Linked DNA regions of Homo sapiens: all the other regions are linked to region 3. Evidence: fine-mapped expression QTL. A gene starts in region 3. Each other region holds a variant in brackets. All regions are shown on one strand. Distances are from middle to middle.

Region 1 (5,149 bases), 27 kb before region 3:
ATAGTGAAAATGATATATTATAATTCAATTTCCTAGAGCTGGGGTATCTATAAGGCTGTTTTTTGTGATTTTTTTTTTCTTGAGACAGGGTCTTGCTCTGTTGCTCAGGCTAGAATGCAGTGGTGCAATCACAGCTCACTGCAGCCTCAACCTCCTGGGCTCAAGCAATCCTCCCACCTCAGCCTCCCAAGTAGGTGGGACTACAGATGTGTGCCACCACCCCTGGCTAATTTTTGTATGTTTTGGAAAGACAAGGTTTCACCATGTTTTCTAGGTTGAGAACTCTTGGCCTCAGGTGATCCACTCATCTCAGTTTCCCAAAGTGTTGGGATTACAGGCATGAGTCACCACACCTGATCGTTATAATGCTCTTTTTGATCTCTTCCAATGTTAACTGATTTTTCCTCAGTCCACTCCAGGGTGCCGGACTTGTCTTGTTTTAAAGAGTATATAAAGGTTGAATTTTTAGGGAGAAGTTTGGAACTCAATTCCTACAGTATCCTTCTGACCCAGAAATCCCTTTGGTTGTTTTTTAAGTTATGGGGGTAGGGAAAGCCAATATTTTTTTATACTGCCTGGATGGATGAAAAGACCTTCCTTTGATATTAAATGACCTAAGTATCTTATTTGTTTTTCTCTAAACTGAAATCTTTCTTTTGAGGTCTGTGTCCCTTTAAGCTCATTGTTGTAAAAAGTGCAGCCCATCATCTATAGAGGCTTTGCCTAGCCTCTGAGCAGAGGAGTAAATCATCTACATATTGTGAAAAGTGTGTTGGGATCTCAATGTATCCCTGGAGCAGGATGTCCATGTGTATTGTCTGTTTTCTCAAGTGAAAATGAAAACAAATTGACTGTCTTTATCCACAGAAGTACTAAAGAACACACTACATAAATCTATTACAGTAAAGAACGTGCCTTTGGTAAGAATGGCATCAACATGTATGGAGGTTTAGCACTCCTGGATAATGAGGAATGACTATGTTGTTAATTGTTCTCAGATCCTATACAAACTTCTATCCTCTACCATTTAGTTTCCTTACAGGAAGGATTGGAGTATTACATGTACCTCTTTTTATATAGCCTGGAACTACAGGTTTTATTCCTATTATAGCTTCTACTTTTAAAGGGTACTGGCCAGATGTGATGGCTCATGCCTGTGATCCTAATACTTTGGGAGGCCAAGGCAGGTGGATTGCATGAGCTCAGGAGTTTGAGACCAGCCTGGGCAACATGGCGAAACCCCATCTCTACAAAAAATACAAAAATTTAACTAGGCATGGTGTTGTGCACCTGGGGTCCCAGCTACTGAAGAAGCTGAAGTGGCAGGATTGCTTGAGCCCAGGAGGCAGAGGTTCCAGTGAGCACAGATCACATCACTGCACTCTAGCCTGGGTGACAGAGTGACACCCTGGCTCAAAAAAAGAACAGTTCACAGTTAAGTTACATAAACATCTGTTAAACTTAACAAAGTCACTCAATCCATATATGATGAATTTAAAATACTTTAAAAATAAATAAATAGAGGGTATTGCTTAAGGTTTGGAAGGTGTTTTGATGGATCTATTTGAACTTTGATTGGGGAAGCCAAGATGATTATTCCAATATCAGCAGAAGATTTTAACCACAATTGATCAGGTACTACCTTTAGCAGGTTTTGTAATTTTCATTACTCAATAATTCAGTGTCTACTATGGCAATATAGATTGCAATTAAATTAGATTTTGAAAAACTTTTTATGTCCAGTAACTCAGTTTTATCATCTAATTCTAAATACATTTTCCCTTTTTGGGAGAAAGAAGTGTATTATATAATTTTAAGTCTTTTTCTATAAGATGGATGGGAGCTGATTCAACCAAAAGGAAAACATAAGTCCCTTGTAAGTGACGTAGCTGAAAAGCTACAGGCTGAGATTTATAAACCAATACAGGAGTATTTGTGACACCCACCATTTGAATTTTTTGTTTACTCCAAGGAATGAATCTTGTAATAAGGTGAGATTTATTACAGATAATGTGGCTCCAGTGTCAACAAAAGCTTGTGTTCATACTCCATTTAAAATAATTATTTTTCCCAAAGTAGAGCCAGGGTCATAAGCACAAATATTTAATTTAAATTTCCTGAGAAAACCAATGTCCTGGTCCTGGTGAGAATCAGGAAATTCCTGAACTATGTCTTTAAGTTTTACCTTTGACCATGATTGAGAAACTAGGGTAGGTTCTCCCCTACCAGACACTGGCTGTTTGAGAAATGGAGCTGGAACAGTAGAAGCAGAAGGAGGAGGAGGTAGATCTGGGCAAGGTACTAAAGGATAAAGAGAAGGAGAAGATAATAAAGGATAATAAAGAATAAAGAGACAGAGGAGCTGAGGGAGGAGGATAAATTTCAGCAGTCTTTAATTCAGAATTTTTTAAGACAACTTTTTGTTCTCTTGTAAAGAAATAACTTTATTATAACCTCTTTAGAAGCTTCCAAGCCTCATTGAAAATAACTCTCCCAATTATTTTGTTTTATCTTATAGCTGACTTTTTCTCATTGAGCACACAATTAAATTAGTTTAGGCATTTCAAAGGTACTACATTTTGTCCATTGCAAATGTTAGGATTTTCTTGGGTCAAGTAAGACCATTTTTCCAAATATTGACAGGAGGTGGTGCCATAAGTATTGTACATAAATCCAGCTGGAGTTTCTAAAGATGGATTCTTTCTTAAAGAGGACTCAGTTTTAGATGGAAGATGGACCATAATTTGGATTTTCTTTTTAAGTGACCAAAGACTCAAAGAGAAAGATGTCTTATTTTTTAATTTTTAAATTTTATTTATATGTTTATTTTGAGATGAAGTCTCTCTCTGTCACCCAGGCTGGAGTACAGTTGCGCTATCTCAGCTCACTGCAACCTCCGCCTTCCAGGTTGAAATGATTCTCCTGCCTCAGCCTCCCAAGTAGCTGGGATTACAGGTGCCCACCACTATACCTTG[C/T]TAATTTTTGTATTTTTAGTAGAGGCAGGGTTTCACCACGATGGCCAGGCTAGTATCAAACTCCTCATGTTGGGCTCCTTCCCCCTCGGCATCCCAAAATGCTGGCATTACAGGCGTGAGCCACCGTGCCCAGCTGGGAAAGATGTTTTGGATCTGGTATTCTGCTTAACAGGGATTACTCCTCGAGGTGTCACCCATGAGTCACTTCTACTCTCTTATGTGTTTCAGTGAAACCCAGACATTTCTGGAGGCTTAGGGCCCTGGGATACCAACCCTTCATGTATGCCCAACAGGTTAATCAGATTTCCCTGTATGTTCTTCCTTGGGGTTTCCCTGTAGGACCCTTACACAGCAGAAGCTATGACCTCTGACAGTCCTGTGTGGCCTCAGTTACCTAAGGTGCCTTTCAGCTGGGAGGAACAGTGGCCGTTATTTAGGACTTTCTCAGGTCAAGTAAATCACATCCTCAGACAAAGCCTTTAATGAATTTTTGGTCACTCAGAAAGAAAATCTAAATGGCAATTTTAACCCAGCTCCAAAACCTGGTCAGTTTAAAACTGCACATTTAGCTTAAGCCACAAGCATTCACTTTCTCTTTTTAAAAAGAAACTGCTTTCTATTTAACCAATTTTTTTTGAGACAGAATCTCACTCTGTCACCCAGGCTGGACAGTGGAGTACAGTGTGTCAGCTCCCTGCAATCTCCACCTACTGGGTTCATGCAATTCTCGTACCTCAGCCTCCCAAGTAGCAGGGACCACAGACATGCACCATCACGTTCAGCTAATGCTTTGTATTTTTAGTAGAGATTGGGTTTCACCATGTTGGCCAAGCTGGTCTTCAACTCCTGGCCTCAAGTGATCCAACCGCCTCAGCCTCCCAAAGTGCTGGGATTACAGGTGTGAGCCACTGCACCCAGCCCCAAATTTTGAATGGGAGAAAAGTTGCAAACTTTAGCAAGCAAAACAGACAAAATCTTAACCTCAAAAGAAAGTGAAACTACAAACTTGCAAATAACAGAATCTCTAGAGAAATAACAATAAAGTGACTACCTCAAAGCCAAAAGTTGAGCTTCAGTTCTAGCTCTGTTGAGTGTGGAATTGGGTTGCTTGAATAAAGTCTGAATCTCAGCCAGAACTAGGAAGATATGAAACCTGAGAGAAGTCTTACCAGAGACCCCCGCCAGCTCTGATGAGGTCAGACGAGTAAAAGCCACTCATGCTGGTACTAAATCTCCGAATGCCAGCAAAGCAACGAGGATCGCACGAGGCTTGTTTCAGGTCCTATCTGCAGTTGCCAAAATGTCAACTTAAAATAATCAAAAGGATCAGAGTCTAATTTAAAGAGAGTTTATTCAAATACAAAGTTTGAGGATGGCCCACTCAGGAGCATCAACTGCGAAGAGATGGAGGCAGTGTTCTGAAGTAGAGAAATTAGGGTTTCATTTATAGATGCAGAGACAGAGATGTTTTTAGCAGGATTACAACATTTTTCATATGAAGTTGGCACATACTTCCAGCAATTTGATTGATGATAGGCAATGCATCCTTTTTGGAAAGGGTACATTTAGCATTTTGAATATAATGGGTGTAACAGTCATGGGTTTTCTGTCATCTGGTTTAGGCAAAGTAGGACAACAAAGGGGAAGTTAATCTATAACAAGAGTCATTAATTAAGAAGGCAGGAGGCTTTTGTCCCTGATATAATTTAATTCTCTCTAGTCATTGTACAGAACAAAAAAATAAGAAAACAAGTTAATCTATAATCTGAGAAACAGAAGTTGGAACCATATGTGACTAAGATCACATTCACATTTCTCTTAAGGTTTGAAGTGGGTTTTTTTGGGTTCCAACAGCTTTTAAATTATATTTATTTTCACACAAGAAAGCAGGAGGGATGGGACCAGAAACTGCCTTTCAGTGCTATTTCATTTTTAAAGAATGTGCTTGCATCAAGTAGATCACAAATTAAAACCACAACAAACCCAGAAACTCCCTTGTCCTGACAGGAGTTCTCATGCATCAATCTCATCATGTGGTGACTCGCCCCTGTCCCCTGCTGGGGACACAGAGTCCTTGGCGGGGGCGCATGTCTCTTCACACTCGTGTGAAATCGTAGGCTTCTGGTCCTTGGGGAGAAGCTGTGAAGTTTTTGCTACCAGAACTAGGATTCTAG
Region 2 (5,149 bases), 72 kb before region 3:
CAAAAAAAGAAGAAAAGAAAAGAGAGGAAAGAAAGAAAGGGAAGAAAGAAAGAAAAGGAAGGAATGAAGGAAAAGGATGAAAGAAGGAAAGGGATGGAGGGGAAAGAGAGAAAGGAAAAGAAAGAAAGAAAGAAGAAAAAGAAAGAAATAAAGAAAAAGAAAGGAAAGAAAGAAAGAGAAAAAGAAAGGAAAGAAAGAAAGAGAAAAAGAAAGAAGAAAGAAAAGGAGGAAGAAAGAAAAGAAAAGAGGGAGGGGGAGAAGGAAGGAAGGGAGGAAGGAGAAGAAGGAAAGAAGAAAAGAAAAAGGAAAAGAAAGAAGAAAGAAAACGAAAGAGGGAGGGAAGGAAGGAGAGGGAGGGGGAGGGAGGGGGAGGGAGGGGGAGGGGAGGGGAGGAGAGGGGAGGGGAGGGGAGGGGAGGGGAGGGGAGGGGAGGGAAGGGAAGGGAAGGGAAGGGAAGGGAAGGGAAGGGAAGGGAAGGGAAGGGAAGGAAGGGAAGGGAAGGGAAGGGAAGGGAAGGGAAGGGAAGGGAAGGGAAGGGAAGGGAAAAGCAAGCTTCCTAGGAAGGCAAGGGAAAGGAAAAGCAAGCTTCCTAGGCAGGACAACTCAGCAGAGTCATGGCATTAGGAGAGGACATGATGCAACAGTCCGTGGAGGTTGTGGTTGCCAGGGAAAAGGGGCAGAGGGAGGTTGAAATATACAAAGTTTATTGGAGGATGACATAAACGTCCTGGAATTAGATAGCAGTGATGGTTCTATGACAAGTTTGTCCAACCAGAGGCCCGCAGGCCACATGTGGCCCAGGACATCTTTGAATGCGGTCTGGCACAAATGTGTAAACTTTCTTAAAACATTAGGAGATTTTTTGTGATTCTTTTTAGCTCATCAACTATCGTTAGTGTTAGTGTATTTTATGTGTGGCCCAAGACAATTATTCTTCCCATGTGGCCCAGGGAAGCTAAAAGATTGGACACCCCTGTAATGTACAAGATTGTGAATATACTAAAAATCTCTAAATTGTACACTTTAAAATGGTTAAAATGGTAAATTTTATGACTTGCGAATTTTTTTTTTTTTTGTGATTGAGTCTCACTCTGTTGCCCAGGCTGGATTGCAATGGCGCAATCTTGGCTCTCTGCAGCCTCTGCCTCCCGGGTTCAAGCTATCCTCCTGCCTTAGCCTCCCAAGTAGCTAGGATTACAAGCACGTGCCACCAGGCCCAGCTAATTTTTGTATTTTTAGTAGAGATGGGATTTCACTGTGTAGGCCACTGACCTCCTGACCTCAAGTGATCTGCCCACCTCAGCCTCCCAAAGTACTGGGATTACTGGCATGAGCCACTGCACCCAGCCAACTTGTGAATTTTGTCTCATTTTTTGTCATTGCCTGTTTTGGTTTTGTTTTGTTTTGTTTTTTGAGACACAGTCTTGCTATGTTACCCAGGGTGGTCCTGAACTCCTGGCCTCAAGCGACTCTCCTGCCTTAGCTTCCCGAGTAGCCGGGACTACAGACAGTGCTAAATTTGCCCAGCTTAAATTGTATCTCAACATTTTGAAAAAAGTTAAAGACACCACAATCCATGGTGACCTGACAAGAAGGAGCCAGGGAAATAAGCACCTGACAGCCCCACTCCCACTCCACTTTCCAGATACCCGCTGGTGCCTCCTGCTGACAGAACGCACCTGGGTCAGGGCACTGACACACAATGTGTTTGGATCTGCCTCCCAAGGGACAGGGCAGGGTGGAGAAATGCAAGGGTACACCTGGGGAAATAAATAGAAGGATATTCAGTAAAGCTCCTTGGGTAGCATTTTAGAAGTTTCTAGTAACATTGACACACTGACACTGTACATGTAATGTAATTCAGCAGTTGTTGATACAAGTCAGGGCCTCCCTGGGAAAGGAAGGAATGAGGGGGCCAGTGAAACCAAACCAAGTTGGAGACCTCATAAAGTTCAGGTGCTGGGGTGCACTAATTCTCCCTATTGACTCAGTCATTGAGTCACTTGACTTGTGATTTGAAGAGCTGAAAAGAAGGAGTTCTTCCATTGGACAGCCAAGCCCTGGCTGGTGAAGAGCAGATATCCTTACCTACAGGCCCATGGCAGACACAATACCATGTGCTCACCAAACCGATTTATTTTTCTCCTGGGCACACAGGAGAGCTATGTTTCCCAGCCCCCTAGCATCATGTCGAATTCTGGCCAATGGAATGCGGGGAGAAGTGATGTGTGCCTTTTTCAGGGGTGGCTCTTCAAACTTTTCATGCAACCATCCATGTTCTCCCCTTGCCTACCAGCTGGCTGGATGCAGGAGAAGAGTCCAAGATTCCTGGGGACAGTGGAGTTACTGGATAGAGAGCTTGAATTCCTGACTCATTGCTTGCAGGAGAGCTGCTTAACTGGGCACATCTGGGTTGGACTTGGCATGAACCAGTGGTGAGAAATGAGGTCTCAGTCCAACAGCCAACGGGGAATTAAGGTTGGCCAACAACAACATGAGTGACCTTGAAATGGGAGCCTCCTCCAGTTGAGCCTTCAAATGACTGCAGCCCGTTGGTGGCACATGCCTGTAGTCCCAGTTACTCAGGAGGCTGAGGCCGGAGGATAACTTGAGCCCAGGAGTTTGAGGCTGTAGTTATGACATTATGATTGTGCTTGTTAATAGCCACTGCACTCCAGCCTGGGCAACAGAGTGAGACCCCGTCTCTTAAAACAACAACAACAACAACAACAAAACTGCAGCCTGAGCCAATATCTTGTCTGCAACCTGATGAGAGATACTGAGGCAGAACCCAGTTATGCTGCTCCTGGATTCCTGACCCCCATAACCATAGATAATAAATGTTTGTTGTTTAAAGCTGCTAAATCTGGGGTTAATTTGTTATG[C/T]GGAGATAGATAACTAATACAGTAATACAGTTCATTTGTCATTTTTTTTGTTTGTTACAGTGGGTAAATCTTGGACCCATTTTGGAACCTGTTTTCATTCAAGGTGTGAGGTGTAGACCAAACTTTCTTTTTTCAAAAGGATAGTCAATGGTCTCAATAATATTTATGGAATATCCATCCTTTCCACAGACTTAAAATGCTACTTTCATTTACTACCTCTGGTATTATAGTGAAGCTTTTGGTGTCTTGGTATCTAGACTCTCTTTATCAGGATGGTACACAACCCCCAACCCCTTGTAGCTGACAGCTCATATTTGCATTTTTTTTTTTTTTTTTTGAGATGTTCACCTTCTCTGCCAACACCTGCAAGGCCCTCGCCTTGAGGCTGGAAGACGAAGGTGCGGTCTGAGGCCTCCCGTGGCATAGCCCATGTGAATTTGGGGGAGCAAGCCTGGCTGAGTGTTCCTCCTGACCCGGCTGGGACACCACCATGCACCCAATCCACCTTGAGCCCTGCTCGCCTTCCACGTGCAGCTGCTGAGGACAGAAGGAAAGTAAGCACTCCAGCCCGGCTCTGCCTTCTCCCACCGCGCAGACTCTGCCTCGGCACCTGCAAGAGGAGGTGACTAGGAACTGACACCCCTGGCACCTTCACCGATACCCTGTTACCTGCTGTGTGCACCCGGACCTGAACAGATGCGCTCCCGCCTGGCTTAGCTCTCTGTGGCTGTTCTCCCTCCTTTCGGTCATGCTCCTTAATTGGACTCCCTCCAAGGCACTGTTGGTTCCTCTTTTGTTTTGTCTTTTGTTTGTTTGTTTGTTTGTTTGTTTGTTTGTTTTGAGATGGAGTCTCGCTCTGTCGCCCAAGCTGGAGTGCAATGATGGCAAGATCTCTGCTCACAGCAACCTCCACCTCCCGGGCTCAAGAGACTCTCCTGCCTCAGCCTCCTAAGTAGCTGGGATTACAGACAGGCACCATCATGCCCAGCTAATATTTTTTGTATTTTTGTAGAGACAGGGTTTCACCATGTTGGCCAGGCTGTTCCTGAACTCCTGACCTCAGATGATTCCTGCCTCGGCCTCCCAAAGTGCTGGGATTATAGGCGTGAGCCACTGTGCCCGGCCGTTTTGTCTTGTTCTTAAGGAAGATTCAGCCTCACAGCACAAGCATCGGCTCGTAGAGTAGAAATTTCCCAGACAGAGAGCCTTTTAAAATAAAAATATACCTCTTTGAATTACCATTTTGTTGCTACAGCAATGCTATAGCAGTATGAGGAGGTGGTAGGGGGTGGGTGGGTATTTTTCCAAAAAGAAAGATGTCTTGGGGCCTATTAATTGCCCTGCCCAAATGTTCTCACTGCAGTGTGACCACATCACCAGCTGTTGTCTGTCTCACTTACAGAAATTCAGAAATGCTGGCATCATCAAGACATCCCCAATGATGAGATTTCTGGGTGATGTAAATCCACAAACTTTTAGGCTTTGCTTTAGTCAGGGTCCTGGCAGGAAAAAGATGATGCACTCAAACTGAGTAATTGGAGGAAGCTTTGATAAGAGACTGTTTAGAAACCTGTGCGCAGGGCCTAAGGACTCCAGCAAGGGCTACTGCAGTGCCTCAAGGTTGGGAACAGCTTGACCAGGAGGGGCAGGAGATGGAAGAGATTATGGAAGAGGAGAGTGTAGTATATGGAGAGGGACACTAGACAAGGGGTATGGCATTTGGTGAAGGGACACAACCAACTTATGGCAGAGGGCACAACCCAGCAGGAGGAAAGCTGGAAATACTCACCTGCCCTCACTTATTCCCTTCCACCCATCTCCTGTGGTCCTTCCCGCTGGCCAAGCCCATCTGCAAGTGTTACAGGGAAGGGGTCTCGATCTACACCCCAAGAGAGGGTTCTTGGATCTTGTGCAAGAAAGAATTCAGGGCGGGTCCATAGAATACAGTGAAAGCAAGTTCATTAGGAAAGTAAAGGAATAAAAGAATGGCAACTTCATAGGCAGAGCAACCCCAAGGGCTGCTGGTTGCTCATTTTATGGTTATTTCTTGACGATATGCTAAACAAGGGGTGGATTATTTATGCCTTTTGTTTTTAGACCATATAGGGTAACTTCCTGACGTTGCCATGGCATCTGTAACTGTCATGGCACTGGTGGGAGCGTAGCAGTGAGGACGACCAGAGGTCGCTCTCATGGCCATCTGGTTTTGGTAGGATTTAGCTGGCTTCTTTACTGCAACCTGTTTTATCAGCAAGTTCTTTATG
Region 3 (5,149 bases):
GGAGAGAGAACCAGGGCCTGGCCTCTGATGCCTCCAGCAACTTCACTTCCTCTCCTTCCTCTGTCCCCACTCTTGGGACTCTCACTCTGAGGCCCACCTCAAACTGCAAGGAGTACAGCAGAGAAGGGACAAAGGCCAGGCTGGCCTCCATCCCCACTCACTCCCCAGTGAGCCATTGAACTCCGCCCAGACCATGGGTACCAGCTGCTCTCTGACTGGCTTCACATCTCCCGAGGGAGGCGGATGGAGGGAGGCCGGCCTTCGCCTTTAAGAGCACTCTCCTGCCACCCCTCCCTTTCCCCAGAGGCGAGCTTCATCAGGCAGGAGCCAGAGGCCAGAGAGACAGCGTGCAGCTCCAGGTACAGCCTCCCCCAGCTCCCTGGCCCTGAGGGTGGGTGCCTTCCTTCTCCCACACTGGTTATGCCCTGCTGCTGAGTCCTCCCCAGCCTGGCAGGATGGACAAACACCCCTAGGAAAGGGCATAAGGCTGGAGTTAGGGATGAATGACATGGGGCTTTGCAGAGAGGGATAGGGAATGGTATGGGGAAGGGATGCTGGCCATGGACTGCTGGCCTCCTGGGCTGGGCTGCATGATATAGGGTGAAGGAAGTGATTAAGCAGGGAAAAGGACACAGGTCTTTTCCTGACTTCTTCCACTTGATAGTTTTGTGACTTTGGGCAAGTGACAAAACAACCCCGTAATATGGGTGATCCTACCTTGTACCTTGCATGTGCCAGGCCCCAGGAGTGAGGCTAGAAGCTGAGAAATGACTCACACCCAGGCCTCTACTGACTCCTCAGGGTCCAAGCCAGACCCCTCCAAGAGGGCCAGCAAGCAGCCAACCCAGTTGCCTCCCCTGAGCCTCAGTTTCTCCAACCAAGGAGCCAGGGTGGGCCTTGATCTATCTCCAGACCACATAGGGGCCTGAGGTCTTTCTTGGGGAAGGGGTTGGCCCAAAGACCGCACTGGCAGAAGTCCCAAGGTGCTGAGGCCCCCATCCAGAACACACTGTCTCTGGGGTACAGGCTGAACATGCCACACGTGCTTCCCCCTCCCTGCCCCTCCTGGCCCTGTGTCTAGCAGCTGAGCAAATGGCGTCTCCTCCCTTCTCCCTGCCCCCTGCCATTCCTGCGCAAAGGGCACGGGGCCTGGCGTGTGGCACTGGCAGCTGGAGCTTTCCATGCTGCCGTCAAGTTTTCCAGAGCACAAAGACAGGAGAGCCAGGAATAACTGGCTGGGCCCCCAGAGGGTCTGGAGGGGATGGGCCTGCCTCAGACCTGCTTTCAGACCCTATGCCAAGGGGTGCAGGCAGAGGGCCAGCTGCCCAGGACCAGGGCTTTGGGAGGCTTCTGTGGCTACTGGGAGCCCATTATCTGGCATGCATTCTGTAGGAATCAGCCCAGGCTCCAGTGTGACCTGGGTCCACTCCTTGTGTGACCTTGGAGAAGTCATTTAACCTCCCTGAGCTTTGTCTCCTGCGGGCCCAGGTGGCAGCTTCTCAGGATCCCAGGGAGTGAAGGGCCCATACTGAGGTTGGCTATGCCCAGAGCTGCTGTTATGATGATCGTTTTTATGGCTGGACAACCCTGGGCCAGTCACAGACCAGCTGGAGGCTCAGCTCAAGCCAAGGCACCTCCAGGGCCCCATACTGGATAAAGCACAACCCCAGAATCCTGGCCAGGGACCACACGGCAGCAAAGCCCCTACCCAAGGGAGCTCAGCCCCTGGTCTTCTGAGCAAGAGGATGGGTACCACTGGGCAGGAAGAGCGAGTGTCTACGCTCTCCAGAGGACACAGGAGCAAGGAGACCAGAGCATTCTCACCAACCAGGCCAGTTCCCCTTCCTCCCCCCTGGGGGGTGCTGGGTGCCGGACACCCCTCCCCAGGGGCTATATTAGCCGTGTGAGTCATGGTGGACCGGCTGGGAGGCGGCAGGCTGGCAGGCACAGTGTAGGGTTACAGTCCATTTATGGGCGCAGCCGAAGGCAGATATCAGTGTCGATGGCATTCGCTCCCAGCTATTCTTAGGAGCCTCTCAAGAGCTCCACGCAGCCCGGCTGGGCAGCAAGGGACAGAACAGGCAAGGCTGGGGGTCAGGGGCAGGGGCAGAGGTGTGGACCGGGCAGGCGGAGTGCCTGAGTGCCCTCTCACTCAACCCTCTCTACCCTTTGTCTGCAGAGGCGGCCGCTGACAGCACCAGCATGTCTTACAGTGTGACCCTGACTGGGCCCGGGCCCTGGGGCTTCCGTCTGCAGGGGGGCAAGGACTTCAACATGCCCCTCACTATCTCCCGGGTGAGTGCACCCTGCCACAGCCTGGCACCCGATGGGGCAGGCACGCTTGGAGGAGGGCATGTGTGTCCGTCTGTCTGTCTGTCCTTTCTGAGCCTCTCAGAAAGCAGAGCATGCCCCATCCCCTGGGACTGGCCTGGTCCTCTGGTCTCAGCCACAGCTGTTTGCTCACTGGAGCGCGCCGGCCTGTTATGCATGTGAGACATCATGAGCAGGTGGTAGGTGTTTTTAGCAGAGAAGAAAATGCTGAGTTTTCAGGCAGGCAGGCAGGCAGGCAGGCAGGTAGCTGGACAGAGAGTACAGCACCTTCCTGATCCCTTTACTGTTAGAGTGGGCTCAGGGTGCCCCCAAGCCTTGAGCATTTCCCTAGATATGGGCAGCTGCTTTGGGAAGGGAGTATTCCCAGCATGGAGAGGGCAGGTGATGGGCAGTTGGATAGATGGACAGACAGACGGTTGACCTTGGCTGCCCAGCTGTCAGAGTGTGGGGCTGGGCTGGACTGAGTACTGGGCACCTGCTCCATCCCAAACTTGAGACACCAAGACCCTGGCTCATGGGGCTGGGCGCTTCTCCCCATTCACCATGGCTGCTTTGTCTGTCTCAGGTCTTGTTCCCCACAAGTGCTGGGGCCTGGTGAGATGGCCCCCTATCCTGCAGTGTCTGTGATGGGGAGCAGCATGGCCTGATGCAGATGACACAGAACATCAGGGGTTGTCTGAGTAACTCTACCGCCTGGCTGGAGACAGCAACACCAGAGAGGCAGAAAGTTAGCCATGCTCCTGAGGAAGCACTCCAGGAGCAGGGACTGATGGGGGAACAGCCCCCAGACCGTAGTAGGCACTCCGTCAGTTTCTGTCAAACAAAGAGACTCCCCAGCAAGGCACTGGTAGACCCAGGGCTGAAGGCCCCAAGGCTCAGGGCGAACTGTGAGGCATACAGGGCAAGGACAACCCTGCCTGGTGGCTGAGCCCCTGACCGTGCTGTTCCGGGCACAAGGCCAGAGGGGGAGGCCCCCAGTCTGTCACTGGAGGGTGGTAGGTAGGCAGGGGTATCTGGGCTACTGCCCACCAGGGGAACAAGGGGACAGTTTCTTCTCTGGGGCCTTAAGGACTTGCCTTGGGCCTGGGGGCTGGAGGAAGGGGTTGGAGGGGAAGCACTGAAGTGGGCAAGGCCTGAAGGGGCTTGGCAGAGGGGCCAGGGAACCTGGGCAGCGGGTCAGGAGCCAATGCCCCCAGTGGAGGAGTAATCTTTTTTTTGTTCCACGGGTACTTGAGGGGACCCCAGAAGTAGAAGCCCCACCCAGGGATGCCGTGAGAGCCTTATAATAGCCATAGAGGCCACATGCTTACAGGAGGGGTGCTGGCCTGGCTCTGGTGCAGGGAACAGGCCCTGACCTCCATCCTTCAGTTGCAGATGTGGCTTGTTCTAACCTGGAGATTCCACCCCTCCAGATCTACTGCCCTGGAGACCACAGGGTCCTGGGCACCCACAGCCTTGCACACTTTGCATGAGGTGGTGACCTGTGAGCATGTGAGCCCCAGTGGATTTCCCACTGCCCTTTCCCACAGCTCCCCACCCCCATGCTTGCAGGACTCCTTCCTGTATAAGGTGGAGCCTCTGTGTGCTCTCTCATGGGCCCTGTGGCCTCCCCTGCCTGGGACTGAGCCCACATCTCCCCCAGCTCCACCATCTCGAGGCCTCCTGCTGGTGCTCCCTGCCCTATCCCTATGGGTGCAAATTGGCCACTGGGCTCAGTGGCACTCAGGATAGCCAATGACCTCACCCAGGGTCTATGTGCCACCTGGCCCCGGCCAGCCAGGGGCTTAAATGGCAGCCCAGAAGCCTTAAGCTAGATAGCAGGAGGAATGTCCTTACTCTGGGGAGGGGGTATGCAGGGATGTGCTGGATCCAATGACTGTGGGGACTTCTAAAAATAGAACCCGAAGCTCGGGCAGGGCACCGGGGGATGGGCATGATATGGCCTCTCGGCTTCCTTTAGGGGCATACCCCAAATCACCTAAGCCGCGGAGCAGGCTGGACTGGGTACTGGAGCCTTCCCCAGGGCTCGGAGCCTCTTGAGAAATTTTGGTGGTAGGCTGCTGATAGCCTGGGCTTGTGTCCTGGTTCAGTGCCGCTGGCAGGGCAGGCCTTGTGGACACAGCCCTGCCATCCCACCAGGGCTGTAGGATTTACTGCCGGGGCTCGCAGGGCCCTTCTGCACCAGGGACATCCCCCTACGGGGGAGGCATGGCCAGAGCTCTCTGGAGGAACCCCACTCCCACCCCAGCCAGGACCTGAGCCTGTGCCATAGGGCACCAGAGGCAAGAGTGTGTGACCCTGTGGGGTGGGCAGGCAGGCGAGGCTGGGATCGTTACCTCGCTTCAGAGCCTGGCAAACTGAGGCTCGAGTCTGCTCACAGGACAGGGATGTCCATGGGTGGATCTCCTGTATCCTGTCACCCCTAACTCCCATGCTGGCTTGCTCACCCCTCTAACTGGGACTAATAGAGAGGCACTGGGGAGGGTCTGTCCCCTCTCAGCTGCAGGTGTGTGCTGCAGCTCCTCCTGGAAGGACACAGGCCACCTGCAGGCTGGGTGGTGGCTCCCGGGGGCTCATGGCAGCAACTTTGGGGCAGCAGCAGCCCCTCAAGGCATCCCTTCATAGGGTCTCTGCTTGCAGACCCACAGAGAAGGGAGTTCAAGAGGGAGACTGGGAAAGGAGGGTGGCGGGGAAATGCCTTTATTTATCCTGGACAGGTGTGGCTGGGCCTGCAACATGAGCTGCCCTTTCACCCCACCCCAGCCAGTTCTCCAGGAAGTGGAGAAGGGGGAGCAGCCCAGAGAGGGAGCAGCTCCAA
Region 4 (5,149 bases), 61 kb before region 3:
CTAATATTAATTAGAATTTTACCTCTTCCCAGGAATGCAAGGACCTTAGACTATTTTAACCCCATTTACCACATATACAATTTTTGTGCTATGTGATAGATTTTAATTCTACATTTCTTTAAAACCCTACAAGATTTTTTTTTTTTTTTTTTTGAGACGCAGTCTCACTCTGTCGCCCAGGCTGAATGGAGTGCAGTGGCTTGATCTCGGCTCACTGCAAGCTCCGCCTCCCGGGTTCACACCATTCTCCTGCCTCAGCCTCCCGAGTAGCTGGGACTACAGGTACTCGCCACCACGCCTGGCTAATTTTTTGTATTTTTAGTAGAGACGGGGTTTCACCGTGTTAGCCAAGATGATCTCGATCTCCTGACCTTGTGATCCACCCGCCTCAGCCTCCCAAAGTGCTGGGATTACAGGCATGAGCCACCGCGCCCGGCAAAACCCTACAAGATATTATAATTGTTGTCTTACACAGCCAATATTCATTAGACTTATCCAAATAACTACCATTTCATTGGTTTTCTTTTCTTCCTGAATCTCCAATCTTTCTTCTAGAATCATTTCCCTCTATCTGAAGAGATGAGACCTGTTTAGTTTTTCCTTCAGTGTGGTCTTCTGAAAGCAAATTATTTTGTTTTTGTTTCCCTAAAAATGTGTTTATTTAAACTTCATTCTTGGCTGGGCATGGTGGTTCATGCCTGTAATCCTAGCATTTTGGGAGGCTGAGGCAGGTGGATCGCTTGAGCCCAGGAGTTTGCGAACAGCCTGGGAAACATGGTGAAACCCTGTTTCTACAAAAAATACAAAAATTAGCCGGGCATGATGGCAGGTGACTGTAGTTCCAGCTACTCAGGAGGCTGAGGTAGGAGGATCACCTGAGCCCAGGAAGTTAAGACTGTGGTGAGCCGTGATCATGCCACTGCAATGAGTGGCATGAGTTTGGGTGGGAGAGTGAAACCCTATCTCAAAAATAAAAATAATATTTTTTTTGAGACAATCACCCTCTGTTACCCAGGCTGGAGTGCAGTGGCACAATCTTGGCTCACTGCAACCTCTGCCTCTTGGGTTCAAGCAATTCTCCTGCCTCAGCCTCCTGAGTAGCTGGGATTAGAGGTGCCCACCACCACACCCAGATAATTTTTGTATTTTTAGTAGAGATGGGGTTTCACCATGTTGACCAGGCTGGTCTCACACTCCTGACCTAAAGTGATCTGCCCACCTCAGCCTCTCAAAGTTCTGGGATTACAGGTGTGAGCCAGTGTGCCCAGCCAAAAAATTTCATTTTTGAAGGATATTTTACTAAATATAAAATTCTAAGTTGTTAATTATTTTCTTTTATCACATTAAACATAATTTCACTGTCTTCTGGATTTTGTAGTTGCTAATAAGAAATCAGTTGTCAGTCTGTCTGTTCCTCTGAAGATAATCTACTTTTTTCTGTTCTGCTTGTTTTTAAAATTTTCTCTTTATTTTTGGTTTTCTGCAGTTTTACAATGAAGCATCTGGGTGTGATTTATGTTAATGCTGTGTATGGCTGGATGTAGTGGCTCACCCCTGCAATCCCAACACTTTGGGAGACTGAATGGAAGGATTGCTTGAGGCCAGGAGTTCAAGACCAGCCTAGGCAACTTAGCGAGACCCTGTCTCTACAAAAAAAAAAAAAAAAGAAAGAAAATTAGCAGAGCATGGTGGCTCATGTCTGTATCCCCAACTACTCAGGAAGCTGAGGTGACAGAATCACTTGAGCCTGGGGGTTCAAGGCTGTAGTGAGCTATGATCACACCACTGCACTCCAGCTTGGGTGACAGAGTGAGACTCTGCCTCTAAGTAAATAAATAAATTAAGTACTGTGTGTGATTTTGGGGGCTTCTTGAATCTGTGGACTGATATCTTTCATCACCATTTCTGCATCATGTCCTTGAATCATCAGTTCTGGAAGTCTCATTCATTATTCAAGTATTGCTTTTGCCCTATTTCTTCTTTCTTCTGGAATTCCAATTAAATGTATATTGGTCTTTCTTACTGTGCCCTCTATGTCTCTGATCTTCTCTTCCATTTGTCATCCATTTATCTCTCTGTGCTCCATTCTGGATGAATTCTTCTAACTTGTCTTATTTATTTACTCTGTTTTTAGACTCATCCATTGAGTTTTTAATTTGTGTTATTATGTTTTTTAGTTCCTGAATCTTCAATGTCTGTTTTTATAGTTTCCAATATTTTGCTGAAATTTTTGAGTTCAGTTTTTAACCCTATGATGATAGTAAGATAGTTTTTTCCCCCTCATCTCTGTCTAATAATTCCACTATCTGGAGTATCTGTGAGCCTCTTTCTGTTTTCTATTGTTCCTGCTTACTTTTGTTCTTATTTTATTTCTTGTTATGCCTGGTTATCTTTGATTGTGTGTTAGAAACTGTACTTGAAAAATTTATTGGAGCAATTTTAGTACTAGGATGATATCATCTTCCTT[TA/T]GAAATGATTTTCATTTACTTTTGCAAATGTGTGGGGACATTAGCAATCCAGGACCATTGTAATCCATTTTAGTGCTTGAGATTTTTCTGAATCACCCAGATTTCTTGAAACTGAGCTACAGTAAAGGGGAAGGCTAGTTTACTTTTTGTTTACTTTTACTTTCAGGGTTTAGTCAATCAAAATTCCACTTCTAAAGTATGGGGTGGTTTTCCAGAGTTACCCTTCCCTTGGAAAGGCCGAGCCTCCTCAGTGTTTTAACTACCTTTTCTGATTGACAAAAGTGGCCCAAATGCTGAGCTCTTCTCTCTGGATTTCTACCAAGGGATATTGACCCTTGACAATTTCTTGCAACTTGTTAGCTTTTCTTTGTTTTAGAAAGAAGCTTTTTGTTTGTTTCTGGTTTGTTTTGAGACAGAGTCTTACTCTGTTGCCTGGGCTGGAGTGCAGTGGCACAATCTCGGCTCACTGCAGTTTCCACCTCCTGGGTTCAAGCAATTCTCATGCCTCAGCCTACCGAGTAGCTGAGGCTACAGGCATATGCCACCATGCCTGGCTATTTTTTGTATTTTTAGTAGAGACAGGGTTTTGCCATGTTGGTCAAGCTGGTCTAGAACTCCTGGCCTCAAGTGATCCACCTGCCTCAGCCTCCCAACGTGCTGGGGTTATAGGCATGAGCCTCCACACCTGGCCAGAAGCTTTTTATATTCCATATGGATTATTTCAGTTGTGTTTGGTGGGAGGGTAGTTCCAAATTATCTAGTTAACTATTTCTGTATGTGAAAGTTCTCTACTTGCTCTAACATTGAAGAATACCTTGGTATCTCTTTAGGGGACTGATGAATGCAGGAGGACAAATACCACAGATGATCTGCAATCGTATATAATAATACAAAGTAGACTGATTTTGAGTTTTTTTCTTGTAATTCAATACTGTGGCCCTTAAAACTGTACATAATAATTTGCTCCAGAATTTCTGATCCCAGAAAGCTGCCTATGGAAATAATTAATTATAGATGTTTGAAATTATTCATTTATAAAGGAATTTTTAACAAAACTGGTAATTAACAGAAGACTAGTTAAAATAAAATAGGCTTCTCTCATAGGATAAGATATTGCACAGCCATTAATACTATAGGATAATATCTAATGGCATAGAGAAGTCATACCATAATGAGAATTGAAACTAGTCAATCATAATATGAACCCTTTTAATATAGTTACATATGCTGGAAATATCACTGAAAATATATTGACTAAAATGCTAAAAGTGGTTATCTCAGGGTTGTGAGATAACTAGTGCTTTTATCTACTGCCTTTTGCTTTTTAATATTTTTGTAATTTTGAAAATTATATACTTATAATTTTCTAAAATGAACATTTATCACTTTTGTAATGGAAAGTGAACTACAAAATAAAATGCTACAAGTGAAACCAGATGTTTTTATTATGTTGTGTTGGAAAATTTATCAATGTAAATAGCCCATAATTTAGATTAAAGAAGTCTTTTTGAATATCTAATATATGTCAGCCTCTTTCATACATATATTTTCACTAATGCTTATAAGTGCTCAATTTTCAGTCACAATGTAGTAATTAGTAATTGAAACAATCTAGACTGTTCAAAAGGAAGTCAAGTGGACAGATTGATTGGTACAAGGTGAATGGTATGATTTTCATAGTCAGCAAATTCCTCCAACAAAGGCCAGATAATGGGCAAGGTGAGCTCTTCCAGACATTATAATTTACCCTAATAGGATAGATGTTGAGTTATAAAAATGTCATAAATACTGTAAAAATGAGAAATATGAGAATGGAAAAATAACAGCAATATTCATATACTCTACTGCAGCAATAGTTAACATCTTGGAATATGCAGGTGATTGGATTATTGATTCCAACCATCTGCTTCCTTTCCTGTAAGAGGATTATACATGTGATCTGCAGTGGCTTTCCAAAGTCAGAGTATAGTTCTTTGACCTGCTTTGGCCAATGGGATGTGAACAGGAGTAATATCCACCACAGATGAGCCAAACCTTTAAGAGCTATTAGATGTTTCAGCTCTATCCTGTTTGTTTCCCTTTGCCACAAGAATGACATGTCCTAAAAAGAGGCTGCTCCTTCAGGCTAGCCCTGGAATGAGATGATACATGAAGCAGAGCCACCACCACTGATTTGCAGACACCAACATGCAATGTGAATGAGAAATAAATGTATATTATAGTAAGCCATGAGATTAGGTGGTGGGGGGTGCTGTTTGTTATCACAGCAAAGCTGACTAATACATTGTTTCCTCAAAAATACAATAGCAGCTCTCTTAACCAAGCTCCACTTAACTGACTTTCCAGATTGACACATGTTCTCCTTTCCTTCCTTTTTTTTTCTAACTTTTCTTTTGAGAAAGTCTTACTCTGCTGCCCAGGCTGAAGTGGAGTGGTGCGATCATAACTCACTGCAGCCTCGACCTCCTGGGCTCAAGAAATCCTCCCACCTCAGCCTTCCAAGTAGCTGGGACTACAGGCATGTGCCACCACGCCCAGCTATTTTTTTTTTTTTTTTGAGATGGAAACTTGCTCTGTCACCCTGGCTGGAGTGTAGTAGTATGATCTCAGTTTACTGCAACCTCTGCCTCTTGGGTTCAAGCAATTCTCCTGCCTCAGCCTCCTGAGTAGCTGGGATTATA

Which allele goes with the higher level. Alleles are on the strand shown, and positions count from the first base shown. SD is a standard deviation of normalised expression in the study named. Not every link is listed here.
For the expression in esophagus muscle of the gene that starts at base 2,022 in region 3, T is the low allele of the variant in region 4 and TA is the other (small effect, 0.17 SD a copy in GTEx).

Evidence for each region.
Region 1: its variant is fine-mapped to the expression of LDB3 in sun-exposed skin (GTEx, PIP above 0.99).
Region 2: its variant is fine-mapped to the expression of LDB3 in lung (TOPMed, PIP above 0.99).
Region 4: its variant is fine-mapped to the expression of LDB3 in esophagus muscle (GTEx, PIP 0.98).

The regions. Positions count from the first base shown.
Region 1 is chr10:86,639,570-86,644,718 of GRCh38, forward strand. No RefSeq gene overlaps it. Among named protein-coding and RNA genes, the nearest start is that of OPN4, 12 kb to the right of the region's middle. RefSeq lists an enhancer at 3,645-3,884. The variant C/T (reference allele first, on the strand shown) is at 2,976.
Region 2 is chr10:86,594,032-86,599,180 of GRCh38, forward strand. No RefSeq gene overlaps it. Among named protein-coding and RNA genes, the nearest start is that of OPN4, 58 kb to the right of the region's middle. RefSeq lists an enhancer at 3,439-3,939. The variant C/T (reference allele first, on the strand shown) is at 2,886.
Region 3 is chr10:86,666,490-86,671,638 of GRCh38, forward strand. LDB3 (LIM domain binding 3) reads left to right here and starts at 2,022. Exons shown (of 14, transcript NM_007078.3): 1 at 2,022-2,081; 2 at 2,180-2,295. The coding sequence starts at 2,203. LOC105378409 (a long non-coding RNA gene) reads right to left here and starts at 60. Exons shown (of 3, transcript XR_001747526.2): 1 at 1-60. RefSeq lists an enhancer at 2,153-2,202.
Region 4 is chr10:86,605,975-86,611,123 of GRCh38, forward strand. No RefSeq gene overlaps it. Among named protein-coding and RNA genes, the nearest start is that of OPN4, 46 kb to the right of the region's middle. The variant TA/T (reference allele first, on the strand shown) is at 2,468.